2 separate regions of the Homo sapiens genome follow, and region 2 is linked to region 1. Evidence: fine-mapped expression QTL. Tissue or cell type: T cells. Region 1 holds a variant in brackets; the other region holds the start of a gene. All regions are shown on one strand. Distances are between the middles of the regions.

Region 1 (5,147 bases):
CCTGCTGCCCCTGCCGCCCCTGCTGGTGGCCACCCTCCTCTTCCTCTTCACCTCGGGTCTTGGCAACAAACCCCTTCCTCACTGTACAGTCTGCATGCAGCAATTTTGGGTACGTGGGCAAGAGTGGGAGAACTCATGCAGAAAAGGAAAGCCTAGATGTAGTTGTTTTGAGCCAGCACCAATAGCGGTGCTCTGTGTTTAGTTGGGACTCTGCATTCCGTGGGACACTCAGGATGGAGGCCAGCTGGCTGTCGCTCAGGGGCTCCCTTTCCCTGTCTCCTGTGTCTGGGAGTGGATCTCTGAAGACAGGGGTGATCTAATCATCCAGGGACTGATTGTCGTCTTAGGATAGAGAAACTGTTTCAGGTCAGAGCCCCAAGGGGCAATAGGACTTGAGAAACCAGTTGTTTCAGTCCTGCTGTCACTTTGGTAATTGGAGTGTCAAAATCCATGACACGGGGCTTTCTAAAATATATGTTTTAAGCAACTGCCGGAAGAGGGGGCAGTGCATTGGGGTTGGATTATGGAGCTTACTTCAGGGCAGGGCTGCATCAGGGTTGTGTAAGGTTGGCTCACCGGGCTGGTGAAAGCTGAGATCTTCCTTCCTGGAAAGGTCTTGGCAAACAGCATGAAATGATCTTATTTATCATGTTGCAGTCACACCTCTCCTAATTGAGGTGAAGCTTGGGGTAGTTTGAGGCTCTAGCTTTACTTTTTCTGAGAAGCACCGCTTGGACTCTTAAGTGCTCACCTGGGCTCTTGCAACAGACTCCCCACAGGCCATGTGCCTGGGGTCTCATTCCCACCCCAAACCCATCCCATAAAACACAGATAGAGAAACTTCTATGAAATGCAAATGTGATTATATCATTGCCCTCCCTGAAGCCTTCGGGGCTCTGCCCCTGTTCTGCTGAATGGAGTGTGAGTTCCTTGGCCTGGTACCTATCCTGTTCTCATCTGTCTCTCTTACCTCTCCCTGCCACGCCCCCAGTGCTCCTCATTCGCCCTCAAACCCCACGCCTGCCCATTTCCAGGCCTTTGCATACATGGTCTCCTGAAGCACCTTCATGTTTATCCCGGGATGTCTCCAGGTACCAGCCTTGATGTCACACTGATACTTACCCCTCCATGGAGATGGCCCCAGTGAAGGGCATCATTCCCACCTCAAAGTCCCACCGAGCTACATCCCACCGAAATCTTTTAGCTGGACCTCCCTGGCCTCTCATTTTCCACATCAGATTAATTTGAGGAGCTGTCTTGTCTCCCTGCAGGCCCGAGAACTCTTTGACAACATGGACAAGCTTTATTTATCATGAAGGCCCCTCAGCATTATACTGTGCCTGACACATAGTAAGTCTGCAGTTAATGTCTGTTGAGTGAATGAAGGGACATACAAGTGAGTGGACAAGTGAATTCATTTCTCCCCCAAGTTCTGGAGCCATCCCACCACCACCCAGGCCCCAGACCACATTCAGAGCACTGTGAAGTGTCTGGGAAGAGTTTAGCAGCTTAGACTACTTCTGATCCTTCCTCATTCCTCCCAGGAAGGCATCTAGCAGTTCAGGTTCCACTGCTAACACCAGCCTGGAGGGCAACTCATTGTTGCAGGAATTGTTGGATAGTCATCTGAAGACAGGTTGTCTCTGATTCTTTAGTCACCATGGTGCTGGGAAAGTCCCCAAAGGTCATGTTTCCCCAAAGGACTCATTAATCACAGAGATAGCTACTGATTTCCACTTGGAGTGGGAATCTTAACCTTGACATGGACATGGACATGCTTGCTCTCTCTATCTGAGAAAAGAAGCCCACTCTGCTCTACTCAGCAGAATGAGGTTTTTTTTTTTTTTTTTTTTTTTGAAATGAAAGAGGCTAATGGGAATGAAGAGGTTAAGTCACCTTGATGAGTTCTGTTCAACTACGTTTAAAGAAAATTCCGCAGGGTGCAAGTGGCTTGTTGTCAGACCTTCCCCCAGGGTCTGAAACAATTGCCTACATGCAGACTGAGTTACTAGAGACAAGGTAAATGGAAGAATCCTTGTTACCTGAGGAGGTCTCTGGGTCATCCTGCCACTCAGCTGCTCTGCTCTCTGCCAGCCCCAGGTCTCCAGACAGCTGGCACCCCCAACCCCAGTTCCTGAGAGCCACTCCTACCTCACACCCACATTCGAGCAAAGCACCCATTTCTGCTCTAGAACCATCCTATCTTCACTTTGTGGATGAACAAGTGGATGGTCCATGCTGGGATCTTGAATGTGGGGGAAAATCAGCTATAGTCCCTGCTTTCAGGGGTTCATAGTCTTGGCAAATGAGTATTTGCCATTCAGTATTTGAAGTGCAATGGTGGAATTGTCAGAGTTCTGTGGGCCTGGAGGAGGAAGTCCCTATCTTCTTGAGAAGGGTGGATGGTGAGGAAGCA[G/C]TAACACTTGTTCCAAGGCTTGATGGATCCTAAGGGACTTACAAGAGACACCAGGATGGAGCACAGCATTTTTGGTGCAAAGGTGAAGAGGCTGGAGAAAGCCTGGATGTAATTTAGGGAAGGCGTTTTGAAGAAGTGGAGGAATAAACATGTGGATGGGAGGATGGATGATAAGGGGTTAGATTTGTTCTGTGTCCTCAAAGGGGAGGAAAAGTAGGACTAATGCTGGGTGGGCATGAGGAGATGGATTTCAGCTCAGTATAATGAGGGACATTCCAAGTGTCACTCCCAAAGGGGGAAACTCTCCTTTCCTGGAGGAATTCAGGCAGGGTTGGTTCAGTCACTTGGCAGGGATGTTGGCAAGAATCACTCTAGAGTGTGGGTGGGGCAGATTGGATTAAGTCCATAGTTTTCACACTTTTTTCAAGACAAATCTCTTCCTTCAAATCAAATTGGTCTGATTGAACAGGGGGTGGAGGGGCCCTCCGATTCCATCAACTTGCTGCTCCTTACCTTCAGGTTTGAGATTCTGTAATGCTAATGCAGAAGCCTTCCATTTGCAGGTTTTGATCTCCTCTTGCTTTTTTTTCTCCACATCATCCCTTGAGAAGAGAGCATAGAACACGTGAGAAACCTAGGCCATTATACAGGCAATATTTGCTGAGAACCTTCTATGTAGCAGCCACTACTCTAGGTGCTGAGAATAAATCAGAAAAAAAAAACAGATGGACTTTGCTCTCTTGGAGTTATCAGTCTGGAGGGGTAGGCAGAGTCATAAACATATTTAGGCACATTGTGATAAGTAGTGGTGGGCAGAGGGCCTAGGGGGAGCACTTACCACCCTACTGGAAGCATCTGGTCTAAGGCCCTCCAATCCCCAGGATGCTTCTCTCTCCTCATTACCAAGCTGTGTTCAGAAGGGAGTGAAGACAGTGACTCCTCCCTGGATGTGAGCATGGGAGCAGAAGGGCTGTCAGAAAATGAGTGTCCCCAGCTGTCAGGTCTCCAAGTCAGGCACAGAAGGGACTGAGGAGGGCTTCTAGACTCTGCTGCCTAAGCTCTCAGCCTGAGACAGTTCCTGGAAACATCCTCATACCCTCGAGTGGGAGCCCTTAAAACCCTGCACCCAGAGCGGAGCCCCCAGGCCCTTAAAGCAGGAGTCTGCAACAGGCAGGTTGGGGGCACAACCATAGCCAGGCTGTGAGGGGAGGGCTGAAATCCAACACTGGCAGCTCTATATCTTCCTGCTCTGCACTGGGGAAGGGGCTGGGGAGGTGCAGCCAGTGGGGCAGATATGATTCAAGCTACTTTTCGTACTGCATTATTTTGAGCAACTCTGTCATTTGTGTGACTTTGGACTAGTCTCTTCTCCATATTACACCTCGGTTTCTTCACTTATGAAAAGGGAGAGTAGGTGACTGCTAGTCTTCCCAGCTTCCCCAGATCCTAATTCTGTGAGTCTTCTTTCTGCTGAAAGGACAGGGGTCAGAGGACCTTGATCTGGACTCTGGTTTTTGGAAGGCCAAACCCCACTGGTTATAACCTAGGAAAGGGACTTTATAGCCAAAGGGCAGGAAGATGGCAGAGGAGTCCCTGAACTGAGCACTTGGATCTGGGGCAGCTTGAAGGGGGAGCTGCAGCAGTAGCCCTGAGGCAGCTAGGGCCAGGCCTGGTAGTAGGCTTTGCAGAGAGAAGCAGATACTTGTGCTGGGCCCAGCTCTCAGCTACCCACCAGAAAGGACAGCTGGCCCTCAAAGCTTAAAATCAGAATCTTCAGACCCCCAGGCTCTCTGGACCCAGAGCACAGACTCCTCCTGGTAGTCACGGAGTCTTTTAGCTGCAGAGCCCGGACTGGAGCTCATTTCTTCACTCTGCCATTCTGTTGAGACCAGGGTGGGCATAGGGCTAAGCTCTCAGACTCCCACTTGTGTGAGCACTCCCGTTGATTAGGGTGGCAGGTCTGTTAAGAGAGATCCAATTGCTCTCTTGGATCCAGAAAAAGTGTGAGAGTAAACACACCGGATCTGTCCTTGTTTCCACTGCCTGGGTGCCAGTATTCCTCCCCAGACATGGCACTATCTAGGTCCATTTCTGGAAGACTTTCAGAGGAATAGAATTCTGTTAGGAGAGAGAGAGGGCTGTGTAGACAGTGATGGGTGAAGACAGGCTTGGGGCTGGTTGGTGAGGTAGCAGGCATATCAAGGGGTAGAGATATGCCTTTTTGCTTTCTACAGTGTACAGTGACAAGGGCCATTTGTCAGGCTGGACAGGCTGGACAGGGTGTCTGAGATGGGGCAGGGAGCCTGGGATCTGAACAGTGGGGCCTGAAGTCAGAGGTGAGGACATGGTCAGGGAGGTGAGCCCAAGGGGCCCAGCACAGACCCATGTTTTGCTGCTTCTCATTTTGTTAATACTGAATGAGGGGGCTGAGTCACAGATAAGGACAGGGCTGTCTAATGCCCAGAGCCCTGGGAAGGCAGGGTTGGAGAAGAGGTGGAAGAAGCACACAGAGCACTGACTTGGAGGAAGAGACTTTATTTGGCCCCAGCCCCTAGCCCCACAGCCAAGACAGTTTGACATAACAGGCCCCGGGGCCCTGGTTGGGTAGAGGCAGGGTGGCCTGGCCTCCTGATTAGTGGCTGTGGCCGTGGCCACCATGACTGTGGCCGTGGCCGTGGCCACTGTGATCTTGGCCACTGTGGTCTTAGGGGGTGCCCTCCCCGAGGCCTGG
Region 2 (5,147 bases), 28 kb before region 1:
CCTCATTTCCTTGGCCTCAGGGATGGACCTGTCAGGTCTGTTGGGACACACCCAGGGACTGAGCCCTTTCCTGTAAACATGACCAGGTTCCGCTCCCTCTAGGTTGCCCCATGTCCGCTAGGCTGCTTACAGCCTCTGCCTTTCCCCAGATGTGCTTACCCAAGTCCTGATACCTTTTGCTGCAAGGTCAGTTCAGCCTGGCTCCTGCTGTCCCCAAAGCACCCAAGGCTGTCCAGGGGCGCAGTTTCTGGGGAGGGGGCGACATTTCACGATCTTGCTGGTCAGCCTGTACATGATGTGGGAAGGAGGTCACCACTCAGGACTCCCTCACTGGACCAGGGGAAGGACCTGAAGTAATGCCCTGTGCCTCAGTTTCCCCATCTGTCAAATAGGGATAATTATACTTGTAATGTCCACATCACTAGGTTGCTGGGAATATCAAATGAGTCAGTGGATGCAAAATACTTTGAAAATATGATATGGTGCTTTGAGGCAGGTGCTGTTATGCTGGTCACATAGGATAGTACGTGGTGAATAATAGGTATTAACCAAGGGTGGATCCTTGGTTGAAAACTTGTCATGTCAGAAATGGCGTTGTTTTCCTAGATGGAGCTTGATTCATCTTTTGTCAAGGAAGTCAGACTGCATTTGTTTGATGAATTTATACCCTGCCTTCTTCCAGAAATGATTTAAGATGGCTGATTGTGATAAAGAGAATTTCTGCCTTGGATAAGGGAAGGGTCAAACTTAATTTTGTATTCATTTATCCCTCAATAAGTATTAATTGAACATGTAGTAGCTGCCAGGCCCTAGGGTTGTGAAAAGAAATGTGATTTCTTTTCTAAATGGTCTCCTGGTCCCAAAGAAAAGACAGACAATAAACAAGTGAATCATAACATAGCAGGGCAAATGCTGTGATGGGTAAGGATTTGGGTAGCATGGAGGAGAGAAGAACTAATTCTGCCTTGATGGGGTGAGGGCAGGTGGATCAGGGATGGACTTGGAGCAGATGATGCCTGAGCTGGATCAGGAATGGTGAGGAGGACATTACAGGGACAAAAGGCATTACAGGCAGGAATAGGAAGTGGATGCTGTCACATCACATCATGAGTCACTCAATCATTTGATACGCTGAATTACTATGTCTCTCTGTGGGGCTTAGTTTCCTCATCTGTACAATGGGCATTATAATAGTACATACGTCATTGGATTAGTGTGAGAATTAAATGATCAATGCAAATAAAGCAGCACTTAGAATAGTTCCCGGACATGGGAAAAGCTCAGTGAGTGTGAACTAGTATTTTGTCATGATTTGCTCTGATCAGTGATTGTGGCTGCTGTTATTGTGTGTGCTGGGCACTGTGCTGGGTCCCCAATGGCTCACATCCAGAGAGAGCTGGATTTATTTTGGAGGGTGAAAGACTCCCTGCTATGTTTATGCAATGGCTCATGCCCTTGTGCAATGCAGAGGGACCCCAAGCAGCCTCCATCTCCCAGGGCACGGTGGATCCCCAGCTTCACAGAACAGGAGAGCTGTGGAGGAGTGTGGGCAGCAGGGTAGGAATGGATTTAGCCCTCGGCAACAACACATGTCCCCACAAAACATTTTCTTCATCCATTCATGTGTTGAGGGACACTTGGGTTGCTTCCACCTTTTGGCTCTTGTAAATAATGCTGCTATGAACATGAATGTACAAACATCTGTTTGAATCCCTGCATTCAATTCTTTTGCATATATACCCAGGAGCAGAATGATGGATCATATGGTAATTCTGTGTTTATTTATTTGAGGAACAAACTTGCCGTTTTCCATAACAGCTGCACTATTTTACATTCCCACTAACAGTGCATTAGGCTTCCAATTCTCTATGCCCTCACCAACACTTGTTTTCTGGGTTTTAAAAGAAGTAGTAGTCATCCTTGTAGGTGTCAGGTGGTATCTCATTGTCGTTTTGCTTCATGTTTTCCTAAAGATTAGTAATTTTCATATGCTTATTGACCATTTGTATATCTTCTTCGGAGAAGTGTCTATTTGAGTCTTTTCCCCAATTTTTGATTGGTTTGTTTGTTTTTTGTTGTTGAGTTGTAGGGATTCTTTTATATTCTGGATATTAATCCCTTATCAGATATTTGTTTTACAAATATTTTCTTTGTAACAACAGAAACACACCACAGTCTTCAAGGTTGGAAGCCAGTTAATCTGAGTAGCATTTTGTTAGTGGTGGGGAGAGGATTTGTTCCTCCTGAAATCCTGGGGAATTGGCCACCTCCTCTTCTCCTCTTAGGCATGAAGCGCGTCTGGCTTCTCCAAAGAACTCTTCCCCTCCACTACCTCAGAGTTAGCTTCCTCTCTTCAGCCAGTGATCCTGGGGTCCCAGACACAATAATTAACCAAGAGAGGGTGAAAGGCTCCCTGCTGTGTTTATGCAATGGCTCAGGCCCTTGTGAAGTGCCGAGGGACCCCAAGCAGCCTCCATCTCCCAGGGCATGGTCCATCCCCAGCTTCACAGAACAGGAAAGCTGTGGAGGAGTGTGGGCAGCAGGGTAGGAATGGATATAGCCCTTGGCAACAACACATTTCCCCACAAAGCACCCACCCAAAAGAACAACAACGATAGTTTTAGTTTTTAGTAATGAGAACAATAGTTCTCATGACTAAAAGCCATCAGCCAGGACACGTGTTCTCAACCCTTTTGCGGTCTTTGGACCCTTTGAAACTCTGACAGAAGCCATGGAGGAATGTTCTCACTGAGTGCATGCACTCAAAATGATGCATTCAACTTCAATTCAGTTTCAGGGATGTATGGCCTGACCACCAATGCAGGGGATTAGCAATCGCAATAGTGGAGAGGGCATGGGAGTGGGAATCTGGCTGGATCAAGCAAGTGGATGCCAGCAGCCCAGAAAAAGAGCCCCCCTACCTGCTTTTTCCTTCTGGGCACTATTGCCCAGCAAATGCCTTCCTCTTTCCGCTTCTCCTACCTCCCCACCCAAAATTTTCATTCTGCACAGTGATTGCCACATTCACCTGGTTGAGAAACCAGAGACTGTAGCAACTCTGGCAGGGAGAAGCTGTCTCTGATGGCCTGAAGCTGTGGGCAGCTGGCCAAGCCTAACCGCTATAAAAAGGAGCTGCCTCTCAGCCCTGCATGTCTCTTGTCAGCTGTCTTTCAGAAGACCTGGTAAGTGGGACTGTCTGGGTTGGCCCCGCACTTTGGGCTTCTCTTGGGGAGGGTCAGGGAAGTGGAGCAGCCTTCCTGAGAGAGGAGAGAGAAAGCTCAGGGAGGTCTGGAGCAAAGATACTCCTGGAGGTGGGGAGTGAGGCAGGGATAAGGAAGGAGAGTATCCTCCAGCACCTTCCAGTGGGTAAGGGCACATTGTCTCCTAGGCTGGACTTTTCTTGAGCAGAGGGTGGGGTGGTAAGGAAAGTCTACGGGCCCCGTGTGTGTGCACATGTCTCTGTGTGAATGGACCCTTCCCCTTCCCACACGTGTATCCCTATCATCCCACCCTTCCCACCAGAGCCATAGCCATCTGCTGGTTTGGTTATTTGGAGAGTGCAGGCCAGGACAAGGCCATCGCTTGGGGCATGAATCCTCTGCGTACTGCCCTGGCCAGATGCAAATTCCCTGCCATGGGATTCCCCAGAAGGTTCTGTTTTTCAGGTGGGGCAAGTCCGTGGGCATCATGTTGACCGAGCTGGAGAAAGCCTTGAACTCTATCATCGACGTCTACCACAAGTACTCCCTGATAAAGGGGAATTTCCATGCCGTCTACAGGGATGACCTGAAGAAATTGCTAGAGACCGAGTGTCCTCAGTATATCAGGGTGAGGAGGGGCTGGGTGTGGCGGGGGCTCTCTGCCTGGTCCTGGGGCTGCCCTGGGCCAGCGGTCCTCCCTGCCACCCTTCATAGATGGCTATGCCTCGGCTCTCTCTGAGATCTTTAAACTCTGGCTTCTTCCTCCTCAATCTTGACAGAAAAAGGGTGCAGACGTCTGGTTCAAAGAGTTGGATATCAACACTGATGGTGCAGTTAACTTCCAGGAGTTCCTCATTCTGGTGATAAAGATGGGCGTGGCAGCCCACAAAAAAAGCCATGAAGAAAGCCACAAAGAGTAGCTGAGTTACTGGGCCCAGAGGCTGGGCCCCTGGACATGTACCTGCAGAATAATAAAGTCATCAATACCTCATGCCTCTCTCTTATGCTTTTGTGGAATGAGGTTCCTCGGTGTGGAGGGAGGGTTGGAAAACCCAAAGGAAGAAAAAGAAATCTATGTTATCCCACCCTACCTCTCACAAGCCTTTCCTGCTTTACCCCTCACCTGGCCTCTGCCCCACATTCCCTTCCAGCCCCTCCATCTTGAGCCATTGGATTTGAGGCTTAAGGATTCCAAAAAGTCCATGACACTATAGCTGATGATTTTACTAGTGGTTCTGAAATGGGTCGGGGATTTGGGAACAGGGTGGTAGTATAAGAACAACTGATACTGTTCTCTAAGCTAAATTTTAGCTTCCAGCTAAATGTCTTAGATGTGGCTCTTGGGAAATTAGAGTGATAGCTACATAGAAGTGTGTGGGTGTGTGTGTGTGTGTCTGTGTGTGTGTGTGTGAGAGAGAGACAGACAGAAAGAGAGCAAGAGAGGGAAGGGGGGAGAGGCTGATTGTGTGTGTGGTGTGATGTAGGTGGACAATGTTCAGAGTCCTCCATTAACAGGATAATCCTCACACCTGTCCACATACCTGTAGTTTGTCCTTGGGGATTTTGAAAATTTTTCCTCCCTCTCCACTCCCAAACTCCCAACTCAATTAAATGATAAAGGAATAGGCAAATAGGAAAATAAATTAGTAAAACTTAAGTCAAAGAATAGGTTATTCATACGCTGCCCTATGGGATTCTATGCTTTGGTGATCAGAAAATTATCTAAAAAATACTTCCCAAGGGCTGGTACAAGGGGAAGGCCAGAAGACGAGTGGTTCTTCTCTGAGGTGGACATTAAAAAAAGAAGAAAATGAAGGGGAACCTTTTGACAAGAATGTCACCCCAAACTGGATTTTCATGCTGTGGTGTGGGGAATTTTCTGTTGTCCTCACTTAGGTGCTGGGGCAGTGGTGTTAGTGATGGGTAAAAAGGTAGGAAGCTGTCACC

What was found. PIP is the estimated chance that this variant, and not a neighbour inherited with it, causes the effect.
Region 2: it holds the start of S100A8, and the variant in region 1 is the best candidate, but not a certain one, in a credible set for the expression of S100A8 in T cells (TOPMed, PIP 0.55).

What each region holds. Positions count from the first base shown.
Region 1 is chr1:153,360,812-153,365,958 of GRCh38, reverse strand. S100A9 (S100 calcium binding protein A9) reads right to left here. Exons shown (of 3, transcript NM_002965.4): 3 at 4,936-5,147. The coding sequence ends at 5,121. Among named protein-coding and RNA genes, the nearest start is that of S100A9, 5.5 kb to the right of the region's middle. The variant G/C (reference allele first, on the strand shown) is at 2,417.
Region 2 is chr1:153,389,076-153,394,222 of GRCh38, reverse strand. S100A8 (S100 calcium binding protein A8) reads left to right here and starts at 3,150. Exons shown (of 3, transcript NM_002964.5): 1 at 3,150-3,182; 2 at 3,666-3,828; 3 at 3,980-4,191. The coding sequence starts at 3,688. The coding sequence ends at 4,120. RefSeq lists a silencer at 3,943-4,143.